Linked DNA regions of Homo sapiens: region 2 is linked to region 1. A link means that fine-mapping ties the variant in region 1 to the expression of a gene that starts in the linked region. Tissue or cell type: whole blood. Region 1 holds a variant in brackets; the other region holds the start of a gene. All regions are shown on one strand. Distances are from middle to middle.

Region 1 (8,106 bases):
TAGGTTTTGATTTCAGGACTGGGGCAATTTGCTGAAGACCCGGAGTTCACAGAGGTCTCAACCCAGAAGCTGGCCTCCGCCTGTGACAGCACAGGAGACGAGGTGGAGTGCGAGGCCCACAGCGTCCTCAGCGGGGCGCCCCGCGGAGCCCTGCAGAGGCCCTCTTGCCTTTAGTGAACTGCGGGGACCTGGCCAATGCCGGCAGGGGCCAGCGCAGAAAAGCCTGGGAGATGCGCGTCCAGGGCCGCGAGTGCAGGGAAGCTGCGGGACCGCAGAGTCCGCTCGGCAGCCGGTAGTCAGGGCGCCGGGGCGTTAGGCTTCAGATTTACTTCAATGTTCCTAATGGGCTTGCTTCAGAAGTGCTCACTGTTCTCGCCACCTGAGGAACCGCATTTTCATGTATTTGTATTGGGACAAGACGCGGAGTCCGGTGTGTAAAGGGCCTGCTTTGAGGGAAGAAAGGCCGCAGCCCAGGGTGAGTTCGCAGAGACGGCGGGTGAGGAGGAGGCGGGAGATCAGGGACGAAGGGGAGGGCAGAGGCCCCTGCCTGCTCCTGGCACTGCAGGCCCTGCGCCGCGAACCTGCGGCCGCCTCTGGGGAGAGAGGAGCCCGGCTTCCTGCGGCGCTCACCAAAAGGACCCGAGAGCAAACGGGTGTCTTTCAACTCAGCTTGTAATAAAAGCATTTGCACATATCCTGTATGAGCCTCCCTGTCTCCAGAGAAACAGGGCCTGTGGATTTGGAGAAGGGAGCGGGGCAGGACTTCTCGCGAGGACCCCAGCCCAGCCCACAGAGGGAGGGCGAAGCAGCCGGAGCCGCGGAGCTCCGGGAAACAGGCGTGGGAGCCGGGGCCCAGGGCAGCAGTGCAGCTCACCCCAGACCCGGGCACAGCGGCGGCTGCCCGGCCACCTCCGCCCGCCCGCGACGGGATCACTTGACCTACACCCAGCACGCGGAGCTCCAGCCCAGCAGCTGGGCAGGCAGCCGAGAAAGGAGCTGGCGCCGCCCACAGGGAAAGGGCACCAGCGCCCACCAAATGAAGATGTGCTGAGCTTCTGTGGAGCGCTCTTTTGTTTTGTGGTTTGACACTTTTCTTGCAGTTTTCATTTTTTGATTTGTTTTGGGCTTTTTTTTTTTTTTTTTTTTTTTTTGGTTTTTATTTTCCCAGAGGAGAGGAGAGGAAGGAGAGTGTTTACAAAGTCCTGTAGCCACCCACTTTGTTTTCACTTTTGCCAGTGTAACTCGGGTTTGGTTTTCTTGTATTATTTAAATGGTTGTGGTTTCCTTTACCCAGGTAGGGTTCAATAGAAGCCTTTGTTGGAGAATTATACTAAGTATTGTGTATGCCCAATAATTTGTTATAAATCCCTTAAGTAGTAATCCTTTTTTTTTTTCCTGGCTTGGTTTAGTTTTCTAATGTAAAGGTAATTGGCAATGCACTTGATATATCTTGCACAATATAGGTAATTGAGTTGGGTTCCATTTTACCCTGGGTGTATAGGTAGGTGTGGGAGGGAGGAGCATGGGTGAGAGAGTCTTTGTGTGTGTTACACATGTGTGTATGTAGTAGGTTGTGTACATATGTCCAAATGTGTATGCACCCATATCGTGTGCCCATGGCACCTGTGAGTACACAATCCCCCTATTCTGGTTTAATTGTGCGGAGATCTAAATCTGGGACCGTTTGAATACAAAAACAGACCACTGTCTCTACTTCTAAGGTGGTAATCCATAACTCTTTGCATTTCTGTCCCACAAGATAATGCAAAAACAATGCAATAATATTCATTTTAAAATATAGTTGTGAGTTCCCTTGGCATTAAAACTATATTTTAAAAAAACACAGAGAAATTTAAGGGAAAAACTCAAGAAGGCATTTTGCTTCGATACATCTCATGTAATTTTTTATTACTTTGCTAATGTTTCTGTTGAAGAAACTTAAATTCAGGTCAGTTTCAGTATTTTTCAAATTTTTTTTAATGGAGTTACAATTGTGCCAAGTGAATATAATGATTATATTTTAATTCACTTCTTGTGTAATTTGCTGCATGTAAATCATTTTGTATTTGGAGTGTGACAAGGGTTACTTCTGAACACTTAAGTGCTTTTCTCTATGTGATTGAGGGAAAGGGAATGATTTTTCTTTTAATTTGTATGATGAGCAAAGGTATTGTTGCAGTCTCACTGATGCATCTTATTGTAGCAGTTTCTCATTGTTTGAACTAGTACCCAGGGTTCTTTGTCCTACATCCAAGAAGGTTAAGGAATGTGGATACAAGGATGAGGTTGGAGCAAAAGTTTAATAAGCTAAAGAAGAAAGCTCTCCGCAGCAGAGGGGAGTCCGAGTGGATTGCCAGGTTGCAGCTGATTGCAGTAAACTTCTATAAGCAACTGCTCTCCTCCCTGTAACTGTTTTAGTAACTTTTTACCAGTAAAGCTGTCCGTGCAATTCCCCTTATGCAGCTGTAGGTATGTCTTTAGGCAGGCACAAAGCGCCACTTCTCTTATTTATATAACTGTGGGTTTGTTTTAGGTAAGTCCCCCTCCTCCCTGTGCCAGTTTCTGTGGAGCCCACCGTGTATATGCCTGAAAAGGGGAAGAAACTTTTTCCTGGGAGTTTGCTAATTATACAAAGAACAATGGGCTTCTCTGCAGGACCCTGTCTGCTTATCTGTGTGCATGTGCAGCCTGAGGTTTTACCCATGTTTGTTTTTGTTTGTTTGTTTTGTGTGTGTGTGTGTGTGTGTGTGTGTGAGTGTGTTTTCCTGTTGCTCTGACTTTTGAGGCAGGCTGCTTTTGCAGTCCAAGTATTCCCCAACTGATTTTTCCCTTTCCTTCTCCCTCATTATTCTGGTATCTGTAAGTCATTATTCTGGTATCTGCAAACAAGTTAGGACATTGCTGTTTTGAATATCTTGTGTTTGCTTCCATTTCCCTCAATTTTTCTAAAATCATGTGATAGGTATATTTGTACCACGTCTTACTTTGTGAAACCAAGACCTGTTTTATTCTTTCTGTTGTTTTTTGAGATGGAGTTTCACTCTTGTTGCCCAGGCTGGAGTGCAATGGCGTGATCTTGGTTCACTGCAACCTCCACCTCCCAGGTTCAAGAGATTCTCCTGCCTCAGCCTCCCGAGCAGCTGGGATTACAGGTGCCCACGACCATGCCCAGCTAATTTTTGTATTTTTAGTAGAGACTGGGTTTCACCATGTTGACCAGGCTGATCTCAAACTCCTGACCTCAGGTGATCTGCCTATCTTGGCCTCCCAAAGTGCTGGGATTACAGACATGAGCCACCATGCCCTGCCTGACGTGTTTTATTCTTGTCTTCACTCTATCCACTCGTTTTGGGTTCTTTGGCTTCATACTTCTCCAAGAACAATGCTTCACTGTGAGGTGTAGGGAGGCATTCTGACCAGCCTCTGTGTCCCTGAGCTGGCATCAGAATCCTCCACAGAAGAGGTGGCTGACCTTCTCTTTATTGCCACAGCATGGACTTCTGTCATTGGTTTCCTGGGGAAAATGTGCACTGACTGAGAGTATGGAAGTAGTCTCAGGCTGGCTGGAGGGAGGGGCCTCCTCACTCCAAGCCTCTGCTCTACTCAAACGCAGACATCAGGGGCTCAAGAAGGGAAACTGGGTGAAACCATTGTTCATCCAAAAATCAACTCTGTCATGCTCATTTCTCTATCCTTTCCTCACTTTAGACCAGGCTTTCCTCCAGCTGCCATGGAGGGGACCAGGACAAGGGAGGAGGCAGCAAGCAGGAGCTCACAGTGGTGGAAACAAATTTTGTGGGGGCAACTCTTATGCTAGTTTGCATCTCCCTAGAACATTGCCCTATGGTGTTGTGTCCTTCAAATGTATTTTGACAATGATGGTTGAAAAGCAACTGCTTTGGGGAAAATAGGACCCAACTATTCACCCTGAATTGGCTCATTGAATCTCTTGTAGTCCCAGTGTTCAGCCCCTCTTGGCACTTGTATCAGCAAGCTAGAAATTAAAATAGACCATCATCCATTCCTCAATGACGATGAGTTGTGCTTTCATGGACTGATTCATGAAAAAGTGGAGAAAGTGTCAGTAACTCCCAGATTAACTGTTTCTAGAGTCTAGAAACAAGAGTCTTTGTGGTTCTCCAAGTTCAGCCCATCTAGATTTTCTTGGTTCCTTTTCATTGCCATAAAGGTCTTCTAGAAATTGACTTTAGGTAACATCCTTTTTCTAGTTTCCCAAGGTTTCTACCACTGCGCTGCTAAGATTCTAGTTATGATGGTGATGGGGGCCCTTTTGAACTGACAACTGGTTCTTGCTGTATATTTGGCCCCTAGATGGAAATTTGGAGTTTTGACAGACCCAACACACACACACTCTCTCTCTCTTTCTCTCTCTCTCTCTCTCTCTCTATCTTTCTCTCTCTCAAAAGTTTTCTGCTGCCTTCTCTTTTGAATTTTTCATTCCCAGGTCTCACTGGACAGTGGCATGGGCTATGGGGTGGGCTCCTGCCCACAACTCCCAGGGTCCTGCCA[G/A]TTATGATCCCCTCACCTTTCCCACTCATACCCACAGGCTCCCTTCTTGTCTAATGTCAACACTGGCCAGAGTAGCCTTCCTCCCTGCACCCTACAAGGAAGATGTCAGCTGTGACAAGGACACCTTGCCCAGTGCTGCTGTGAGGGAAGGAGGTATAGATGGGAGTTCCCCATCTAGGGCAGTGGATCTTTCCTAGCCTGACCTGCTGGTCATTTAGTCTAAGACTGATGTACGATGCCTATCATCAGGATAGATTAGTTCAATGAATAGTGACATCAATGAACCACATCCATGATGTGCTTGGTGATGTCTACTCTCCACCTAAAATGGAATTTTCCCTATGACCTTGTGAAACATAATTGCCAAATCTCCTGTAGCCCTCCTGAAAACCCCTGCATGGCAGGAGAAAACAGCCAGTGGCTGAGGAACCAAAGGACTTGAAGAAGCACAACTTAAGGTCTTTGATTTGATCAACTTAATTTTTATTTGTCCTCTGAGCAGCCCTGCCTCTTTTATTTCTACATCTTGATCTTTTAGTAATTCTTCATGTGCATGGCCACAAGAAGCAAAAAAAAAAACAAAAACAAAAACAAAAAACTCCAGCTGTTTGTTTTCTGCCTGTTCCTAGAAGATTTTCATGGTTTTGAGATAAAAAGAGGAGGCTTTTTTCTAGGTTTTGACTTGGATTAGTGAAAATTTCCCTGCTATTCAGAAGCTGTTAGTTATAGCCCCCAGTGGGCTTCCCGCTGACTGGGGAATCAGGTCAAAGAACAAGAGGATGTCTCTTATCCTCCCGTTTCCCTGGTTCCAAATTCCAGGTACTTGTCTGGAGTGAAGCTGCCTATCACTCCCTGACAGCCGTTCTCCATCCAGAATGTCTCCTGACCCTCCAGCTGAAGACAGCAGAGCCAGCACAGGAGAAGCAGACCTTTCCATGCCCAAGTTCAAATCTTTCTGAGAAATAAGAACACTCTGAAAATGAGGAGTTTGGAATCATCAAAAGGGTGATGGTTGCTTTATAGAGGCTGAACGATGCACACTCAGCACTCCTAAAGGCAAAAATATAGAATAAGAATTTAGGTTAGGGATAGACTAGAACCCTGGTAATTGGGGTTTTCAGCACCATCAAGCCATTATCATAAATGTTCCAAAGGAGGATGATGGTATCTCCATGCCTACAGGCCTAGAATAATTGAAATGCCATTCTCTAGGAGTTAGAATCAGTTTAGCAAAGAGACCAAGAAAAGGGTTGTCTGGCTCCCAGAAGCCCTCTTTAAACCCCAGGACAATCAAAAACTTGCTGATAGAGTCTGGGCCAATTCTGCTTTTTAAAGAAGACCTGGTTCTGGGGTAAAGGTCAGCAGAGAGAGGACTGTGGGGAGAATAGGGGCAAGAAAAGGGCATATTTTGGCTCCTTCTGTGTCTTCTCATTGTTGTAGAAAAAAACAGGTTCTCATCGCACAACCAGGAAAGATTAGGCATGCAGACACTTTGAAGGGTGAGTGGTTACAGAATTTATTGGGCAAAAAGAAAAAAGATTCTCAGCAAAGCTAAAGGGGTTCCTGTTAAAAGGCCCCCATCTCACAGATTGAATTCCAGGTCACCACCCAGGAACAGGAGAGGCCAGGCTCCTCCCCCCTACAAACAGCACGAACTTCCTGAGGCCCTGCCCCATCCTCCCAGTGCACAGGCCAGTCGGAGGTTCTCCAGGGACCACTTTTTACTTGGCTGTCTCACCATTTTGTGGAAAGACATGTTTAGTTCACCCATCCACAGTGACCAGTGGGGTGGAGTGGCTGATATATCAAGGGTCTATATAGGAAGATTTTCAATCTGGTGGTGTTTTCGCAGTCACATTGACCTTCCTGGCAGGTGTGAGGGTCTCTACCACCCAGTTCCCCACTCTGCTGATGTCCTTCCACTCATGCTATCCAGCTGCCACATGACACAGGTCCTGTCTGAAGGCAGGCGGGGAAGCCCAAACCTGACTCACAGGGCAGCTCGCAGTTGCCAGAGTCTAGGTTCTCCAGCAGCCACATTTTGAAGAAAGACATGTCCTACAATTGTCACGGATGGGCACCCTTCCCCCTCCCTACACAGATCTCCCTCTTCCTGCTCCCCTCCCAGCTCCCAGCTCTCCCTTCTCCTTGTAGCCTGGTGAGAGGGACAAGTCAGAGAGAGTTCTACATACAGATATTTGCACAGTTTTTTTGTGAGGCCACTTTTGGTTTTAACTTTATTTCTATCTCAAAGCAATGAAAAATTGCTTTATTGCATCAGATACCAATATAACAGTTAAATGCGTTTCTGCTAGATCTCCGTATTGGTTTTTTGTTTTTTGAGACAAGGTCTCACTTTGTTGCCTAGGCTGGAGTGCAGTGGCACAATCATGGCTCACTGCAGCCTTGACTTCCTGGGATCAATGGATCCTGTCAACTCAGCCTCCCACAAGTAGCTGGGACTAGAGAAGCACGTCATCACACCCAGCTAATGTTTGTATTTTTACAGATACTGGGTTTCACTATTTTGCTTAGGTTGGTCTCCAACTCTTGGCTCAAGTATTCCTCCCATCTTGGCCTCCCAAAGTGCTGGGATTACAGGTGTGAGCCACCACACACACCTGGTCTCCACATTGTTGGGGAGATACTTGAACACTCCCTCTACCAAAACACACACACCCGTAAGGCCCAAAGATGAGTGGAGCTCTAGATAAGGGACCTTTCTTCTTCCCAGAATGGTGAGCACTGTATAGACAGACATGGAGAGAGAACCAGAGTGACTCCTTGGATGGAAAAATGACTTCCTTGGGGGAAAGAAATCATTCTTATTAATAAGCAAGATGATTTCTACATAGAAAATTCCAAGGAATGCACACACACACACACATACACACACCCTAAAAGTAATACAAGGTCAACACACAACACACAGCTGAATTTCTAAACACTAGCAATAAATAAAACCAAAAATTTTGAAATAATTGCACCTATAATATCTCTGAAACATAAAACTTCTAGGTATATATAGGATCTGTGTGCTGAAAACTTACACAATGCTGTAAACAAAATCAAAGAAGTTCTAAATAAATCAAGAGTATATGGATTCATGGATTGGAAGACCCAACACAGTAAAGATTTTAATTCTTCCCAAATTGATCTATACCTTTAATGCAACTCCATCAAAATCCCAGCACAGGATATTTTATAGAGACAAGATGATTCTATGATTCTATAATTTACATGCAAAGATAAAAGGTAAAAAGAAGAATACAGAGAGTCTAGAAATAGGTCTACACAAATACAGCCAATTGACTTCTGACAGAGGTGCAAAGGCAACCCAGTAAACAAAGACACTCTTTCAATAGGTGCTATTGGAACAATTGAACTGTCATGTGCAAAACATTGAACCGCAACCTAAAGCTCCTACCTTATATAAAAATCAATTCAAATGGACCACAGATTTAAATATAAAATGTAAAACTATAAAACTTTTAGAAGAAAATATGGGATAAATATTCAAGACTTAGTCCTTAGACATGGCACCAAAATAGTAATTGATGGAAGAAAAAATGGATC
Region 2 (8,106 bases), 64 kb after region 1:
CTTGCTCTGTCCCCCAGGCTGGAGTGCAGTGGCATGATCTCGGCTCACTGCAAGCTCTCCCTCCCGGGTTCACGCCATTCTCCTGCCTCAGCCTCCCAAGTAGCTGGGACTGCAGGTACCCGCCACCACACTCGGCTAATTTTTTGTATTTTTAGTAGAGACGGGGTTTCACCTGTTGGCCAGGATGGTCTCGATCTCCTGATGTCATGATCCGCGCGCTTCAGCCTCCCAAAGTGCTGGGATTACAGGCGTGAGCCACCACACCAAGTTTATTTTAATAAAAAGATGCTCATTATATTTTAAGTCAAAATAGCAGAATTGCAAAATGTTTAGTACATTCCCATTTTTGTAAAAAATTATACAGATATTTTCTTGGAAATAAGTCTAGAAGAATATAAGCAAAAAGTTAATAATGGTAATCGGTGGAGGGGGCAGCTTTCATGTTTTTGGGAAAATACTTTTTCTGGTTTGGTATAAAAACTAAACATATGCTATAAAAATAAAGTGAAAACATCTTTCAGCCTTTTCCATGCATATTTAAAATGAAATATTTTACAAAGTCACAATCTTACTAAATGTTTTATACCGTGTTTTATCCTGCCCTTTTTTCACTTCATATAATATCATGTCATTGAATATTCTTTGAAAAGATGATTTGTACTACTTGAATTAAAATTCATGGCTTAGAGTCACATTATTTAGCCATTTCTCTATTGTTGAGTGTCTAGGTTGTTGTTTACAATTTCCCACCACTTAAAAAAATGTGGTGCCTAGCATTTTCATAAATAAGTGATTGTTTGCATCTCTGATTATTTTGATAGGGGAGATTCCTAAAATAAAGGCTACTGGATCAAAAGATATGAATATTTTAAAATGTCTTTCTGAATGAATTCCTTTGAAGACACTGTAACACTGAATTGCTTATTCTTTTTGGTTTCAATCTTCAAGTTTAATTGCCTATTTCTATACTTTATTTACTCCATGGAAGCAGCAAGGGAAAGGGATGAAGCGGCCTGGAGTGCATGTTGCATTAGAGGGCAGAAGACCTAGATTCTTTAGGTCTTGGAAAACTCACAAATGTCCACCAGCTTTATATACCTTGTCTTTCAAATAAGGGCGGGGGGGTGGGATTCCTTAGCCATAAATTCCACAGTTCTCTAGTTCTCCTTGGCTACTAGGAGAAATGCTGGGCTTCGTATTATGGCAAAAGCAGCAAATACAGGTATCTCAGTGGAGGATATGTTTTCATGGCCTAGTCTCTAGTCAGATGCTTTTACAGAAACGAAATGAAATCCTTAACAATGCTGTTAATAGGTAATATTATGTTTGTTTTATTATCAGCAGTTTTACAGCTGAAAAAACTGAAGCCCACAGAATTTCAGTCACTTGCCCAAGATCATTCAGCTAGTAAGGGGCAGGAACAAGAATCCAATCCATGTGTGTCTGGCTCCAAAGCCCATGCTGTTGACACTTTATAATACTTCAAAGTTGGACAGAAATCATATTTTTATGGGCTTGATATTATTGATTTAATGACACACATTCATAAGTTCTACACTGATTACTCCTCCTCTAAAGAACTTTTATTTCAAAGGTACTTAATGGTGGAGCACTATTAATGCATTAACTTCAATATCAGAAAAACAGTATCAACAAAACCAATAGGAATGTATAATTTTATGAAAAAATAAGCCTACCAAATTATTAATCTTACAAACTAGATATTTCTCTAAAAATACCCTAAACTATTATGGCAAGTTTTTTTTCCTACCTGAGGTCTATATTTCTCAGTTCTTTACTTTCATAAAAAGTTTCTCAAATATTTGAATAGACACTCTATGAATCAGCAAGTATGTGAAAGTACTGTATATATATATATATATTTTTTTTTTTTTTTTTTTTTTGAGACAGAGTTTCGCTCTTGTCATCCAGGCTGGAGTGCAGTGGCGCAATCTTGGCTCACTGCAACCTTCTCCTCCTGGGTTCAAGCGATTCTTCTGTCTTAGTGTCCCAAGTAGCTGCGATTACAGGGGCGCACCACCATGCCCGGCTGATTTTTGTATTTTTAGTACAGATGGGGTTTCGCCATGTTGGCCAAGCTGGTCTTGAACTCCTGATTTCAGGTGATCTGCCTGCCTTGGTTTCCCAAAGTGCTGGGATTACAGGCGTTAAGCCACCACACCCGGCCAAAAGTACTATCTTTTTAACAACCTTATGTTATTGTTCCTGTCTTTTTCTTTCTTAGCCTTCTTATTATTTTTCTTGGTGACTTTCTCCCTCTCTCTCTGTCTCTTGGTGGCAATTCTCCACAAAGTCTCGTAGAGCCAATAAGAAACAGACTTCTATCACCCACAACCATGTGTCTAAGATAATTTCTCATATCTCTACTAACACGCTACCAGGTTTCACATCCTTTGGTGGATTTATCTTTCCAGTTTCAACAATATGAAGCTATATTAATTTTAAGTGACTACAGCATAACCATCCCTGCAGCAATTGAACATTTGTCAGACAGTGCATATTTAACACCTTCACATTTTCAAAGGACGTAAAGTCTGGCTGTTTTTGTAGAAATCAAACCATCCATTATTAAAGTCTTTAGTATTTTTGTCTTCGGGTTTTTTGATTTGGTTGTTTTTGCCATTTACATCTATAGCTTTTACTGAATTCCCACTTAGCTCCACGAAGGCAGAAGCTATATTGTCTCAGTCACCATTATGCCTTATCACCTACTACATAGCAAGTGCTAAGTAAACATCTGTTGAATGAATAAATGAATATATTCTTCTATCAATGATTCGAGACAACACTTTTTATCATATTTCCAATATAGTTATTCCTTGCTAAGCTTGGAGGTGGCATGCCACAGATACTGCCTCACAGTTGGCAAGAAAAGTCACGGTCTTACAGAAAATAGGGAGTGGGAGAGGGTAAAATAAACTAAACTCCTGACAAATAAAAGTTTTGGGGACATGTGCTTTCAAAGTAAGCCAGACTTACTGACTTTAAAGATCTCCTCTAGCAGAAAAGCTTTTATCTGAATCATCTTTTTAACTTGTTCAGAAGACATTGCTTCAAGAGTATCTACTGTGGTATGTTCTCCTACAAATGTCACGCCATACGTATACAGACTGTACCCTACTGGACTTGAAATTCAATTATTTTTGCTTTTGCATTCTTTCGTGATGCATTTTTATAATCCTTCCTGAGAAGTAAATCTGTATGGATTTATTCATTTAGAAGAATATCCATTTAGTAGAAAATTTAAAATTTACGGCCTCCTTTTTGCCTGACCGATTAGAAGGCAAACATTTCTTTCTTTCTTTCTTTTTTTGAGATAGAGTCTTGCTCTGTCACCCAGGCTGGAGTGCAGCGGCACAATCTCGGCTCACTGCAGCGTCCGTCTCCGGGTTTCAAGCGATTCTCCTGCCTTAGCCTCTGAGTAGCCATGATTACAGGCACATGCCGCCATGCTCGGCTAATTTTTGTATTTTTAGTAGAGATGGATATTCACCACGCTGGCCAGCCTGGCCTCGAACTCCCGACCTCAGGTGATCCACCCCGCCTCGGCCTCCCAAAGTGCTGGGATCACAGGCTTGAGCCACTGCGCCGGCAGGGGGCAAACATTTCATGATTAATCTGACTGAAATACCATTTTTAGGTTCATCATTAGCTCGGACTACAACTCAGGCTGTGCTGTAACTTTGTGTCAACTCATTGATCCAACAGTGTGTCCTTCACATTTTTTCTTATGGCCACTGTTTTTTGTGTTACCAAAGGTGAAGGCATAGCCTTCCTCTCCTCATGTTCAGCATCTTCTGCGTTTCTCTGTTTATAAACAATGAGAAAAAGGGAAAATCTAGTATTTCTCTGACCCTGAAGAACACATATGGGATTCAGAGATTCAAAGTTAAAATGCAACATTAGGGTACATTATGTCACCAGGGACCGAAAAGAACACGGATAATAGATGCCAAAAAAATGTATTAAGTAATGTTAAAATTAATTTGTGTGAAGTTGACCAAGGCTTTTAAAACTAGACCTTTGTTTCCTTGATTCTTCTTCTGAATTTTCTGTTCTTTTGCTAGTCTCAATATTTTTTATCAGAGCGTCAGGGACAATCAGGACCTAAAAAACTCCACTTGGTGTAATAAGTAAACACATGTTGGGGCAAAGTATTGCTGAGTGTGTGTGTGTGTTTCTTATTTGGTATCAGAAACACCTTCCTTTCCTCAATAAACTTTTACATATTTCCAGACTTTTCTCTTAATTTTATGTAACCTTACAAAGATTTTTTACAGCTTTCTCTGCGTGCCAGTCAATTAATGTGTGTCACATGAACAAATAATACGGCTTGAATAAACTCAATCCTATTATTGCAGGTTGCGAAGTCACCTACTCCGTTTTTATGGCGATGCTGATTTGGGGCATTCTGCTCTTACAGGCTGATTCCCCGGTAAGGAAACGGTGTTTTTTCCCCATCCTACTATGAAAGATGCTATCTGAGGGGCAAAGGCGCATCTGCATTTCACGACTACCCACTAGGCTACGACAGCCTCAAGCATGGCTTATCTGGTAGTTCCGCGAAGGGCTCGCTGCCCTCCTGGAGCTATTGGAGTCACCTGTTCAAGGTCGCGAAACCACCGGTGCCGCCGGCAATCAGCGAGGTCCAGCGGGGCTGCGCGGTTTCCGGCCTGCCGGCGTTCGGCGTCGCCTCGGCCCCACCTGGTGCCCCGCAATCTGCGCAAAGGCTGGGAGACCGCGCCCTCTCCCGACCTACCACCAGCCCAAGCTGGGCCCGGAACTAACACCCGACAAGCGCTGGCGGCCAGCTGCAGCCGGGAAGGAGCACCGGAAGGAGGCGGTGGCGGGGCGGCCGAGGGCGGAGCGGGCCGGGGCGGGGCGCGGCCTACAAAAGCCACGCGCGGCGCGGTGGGCGGGCCTGGGCGCGAGCGGCTGAGTCGGCTGGGTCTCTGGCGCCGCAGAGGCCGCGGGCGAGGACCGGGAGGGGAGAGGGAGGAGACAGGAGGAGGAGACGCGAGTGCGGGGTGGCGCCGGTCCACCTCCGCAGCGCTCCTGCCTCCCCCAGGCTTTGGAAGGCGGGCCCGGGCTGCGGCAGCGGCGGCCTCGGCTGCCTGGGGAGGTGAAGTCGGGCTGCGGCGGCCTCGGTCGGCGCGGCGGAGGGAGGCGGCTGACCCGGCGAGGGTGGGCAGGTCTGGGCGGCCGGCGCCGCTGCGAGGTGGAGGGGCGGCTTGGCATCCCCGGGGCGGGGCGGGGCTCCCGAGGGCCGCGGTCGGTGCGTTTTCCGCAGGTCAGCCTCCCCCGGGGCCTTGCAGAAGCGGCTTCTGCGTACCCGGGGCGGCTGTGGGAAGGGTGGGGGTCGGTGCCTGCAGGGCTCTCCGTGGCCGCTCGGGAGAGGTGCTCTTCGCTCAGGCTCCCCCGGAGACTTGAGGGGGTGCGCGCTGGCGTGCATGGGGCCTGTTCTGTCCTTGGTTTGGGGATGCTCCTAAGGGGGGAGAAAGGGATACCTCGGGTGCTTGGAGGTCGAGAGACGGATACGTAAGTGCGCAAGGGCCACTGATTAGGGCACGGGAAGGGCTCGCTAGAATGAGCTCTTAAACTGGTTGGGTGTAAGCGGTTTTGGGCTAGTCTAAACCAAACAACTGAGAATAAACGCGGGGTTCCTGCAGGTTGAGAGAGTACCTGTCTGCAAATGTCCAGTAGTGATGGATTGCCTTGTAGGCCCCAGAGCAATCGGGGAAGTTAGCATTCTTGTTCAAGAAGCTGCTGGTTCACTTAGAGCTATAAAAGAATGTTGTGAGTTTGGATTTTCTTCCAAACGTTCAGGATTGAGGTTAGGGCTGGTGGTGAGGGATCATGTAAAGAGGTTTGAGTGGCTCAGCCTTAGGTCCCGGTGTGGAAAGCTTATTCTTTTGGTGTCATCACGTGGCCATGGGAATTATTTAGAATGTGATCTGCCCTCATGAGAAGAAAGGAGCTCTGAAGCCGTTGCAGTTCTTCCTCCCTATGTGGAAAATCGAATTTCTGGAAACATCCTCCGTATTGGGAGATTTTGCCTATGTAAAGGCTATCCTTATTGGCTAGCGGCACTAATTACTTTAAAAGTAGGATGGAAGTACAAGTATCTCAAGCATCATTGGGTTTCGAGCTCACTTCTGTGGAAAAGAGTTTAAGGGAGTGGTCTAGACTTTCCAGGGAAGTTATTGCCTGGCTGTGTCCCTCTAGTCCTAATTTTATACTTAACTTTCCCCCACCTCCTTCAGCCTCATCTGTTTCAATGGTGCAACTCTTTTCATCCCCTTTTGGTTACCAGTCACCTTCAGGCCATTCAGAGGAGGAAAGAGAGGGGAATATGAAGTCAGCCAAGCCCCAAGTGAACCACAGTCAGCATGGGGAAAGCCAGCGGGCCTTGAGCCCCCTGCAGTCTACTCTGAGTTCTGCTGCATCTCCTTCCCAAGCGTATGAGACCTATATTGAAAATGGACTCATATGCCTTAAACACAAAATTAGAAACATCGAGAAAAAGAAGGTAACTTTTTTTCTTCCAGTCCTGTAGATGCATGATCTTAAAGATTAAGGAGCTGACATTTTTCTTTCAGAGCTCATAGGTGTTCTCTACTAAAAATTTAACTAACCTTAGGTTTAGCTGCTTTAAACAAGCAGGTTACGTGTTGGAAATATTAAACATTTTCTGTTTCATTTGTCAAAACAACGGAATAAAAATATTCTTCATAGTTACATTATGCATGCTGCTGTTGAAATACTTTAAGAGCTAGCTATTTTAGGTGAGATTAATTCCTTATGTAGTATTAATGTTTCTTTTCATAGATGTGTTAATAGCTGATTTTTTAGCTTGTTTTCCTTGTGACTTTCTGCAGCAGTTGATATTGCAGTATAACTGCTGCAGTCGTTGGAAGGTTTAACCGTAGTAGAACTAGAAAATGTTTTACCACTTACTTTTGTGGTGTTAGGTGAAGATTTAAGATTGCTAGGTGAAAGCGTGGTAGTCAGCCTTGTAAAGAGACCCAGGAGTTAAGCCTAGCTACAGAAAATGCTGTTGTAAAGATCTAAATCCTTCTTCATTTCCTGAGTCATGTAGCCTGTGAAACAGACTGCACGTTGCTTTGCTGTATTACGTTTCTCTTCTGCTTTTGGACAGGTGAGGTTGAGTGACTATCTGGACCTATGTGTTGTTAAGTACTTTTGTGCCAAGACCTAGTTAGACCTTAAAGTTGCTTTTAATGGAGGAGTGTGAAGAGACTCTTTAGAGTCTGGTTGACTCTTTTTTTTTTTTTTTTTTAACCTAAGAAAGTAAAGAAGGGCAAGTTGCTAGTAGCTTCTCTGTAGCTCTCACCATTTATCTTTTTAACGTATGCAGTTGATCACAAGTGTGGTAAGGTGAGTGTGCCAGGTCAGCACAAATTCCCCATCACTGTGATAAATGATCAAAGCAGGATCTATTGACGGAGCCTCCCTCAGGTGGAGGAACTACATATATGTATGCTTATGCTCTCTAGCTTACCTATAGTACCTCTTTAATTTTGAATACCAGATAGTACGAGTACTTTTGTTTCAACCTTCTGGGAAAGAATTTTTCCACTAAAGCCAATACAGGAGGAACCTAAAGAATGCTTTTAGAGTACCATAGTGGGTCCGGGTGCAGTGGCTCACACCTGTAATCCCTGCGCTTTGGGAGGACAAGGCAGGTAGATCACCTGAGGTCAGGAGTTTGAGACTAGCCTGGCCAACATGATGAAACCCCGTCTCTACTAAAAATACAAAAAGAATTAGCCAGGCGTGGTGGGGGGTGCCTGTAATCCCACCTACTCAGGAGGCTGAGGCAGGAGAATCGCTTGAACCCAGGAGGTGGAGGTTGCAGTGTGCCGAGATCGCGACACTGCACTCCAGCCTGGGCAACGGAGTGAAATTCTGTCTCAAAAAAAAAAAAAAAAAAAAAAAAAAATACCATAGTGGGTTTATGTCATTATTATGGGGCCAACAAATGCAATTTATTTTTCATAATTTCCTTAAGTATCAAATATAATATGAAAAATAACTTCAAGATGAGCCTACTCTATGATAATG

What was found. PIP is the estimated chance that this variant, and not a neighbour inherited with it, causes the effect.
Region 2: it holds the start of CAPRIN2, and the variant in region 1 is fine-mapped to the expression of CAPRIN2 in whole blood (TOPMed, PIP 0.93).

What each region holds. Positions count from the first base shown.
Region 1 is chr12:30,815,351-30,823,456 of GRCh38, reverse strand. No RefSeq gene overlaps it. Among named protein-coding and RNA genes, the nearest start is that of LINC00941, 24 kb to the right of the region's middle. The variant G/A (reference allele first, on the strand shown) is at 4,531.
Region 2 is chr12:30,751,788-30,759,893 of GRCh38, reverse strand. CAPRIN2 (caprin family member 2) reads left to right here and starts at 4,943. Exons shown (of 19, transcript NM_001385503.1): 1 at 4,943-5,143; 2 at 6,335-6,550. The coding sequence starts at 6,374. LOC645485 (a long non-coding RNA gene) reads right to left here and starts at 4,820. Exons shown (of 2, transcript NR_135046.1): 1 at 4,623-4,820. RefSeq lists silencers at 3,415-3,618, 4,710-5,389 and enhancers at 5,317-5,486, 5,490-5,569.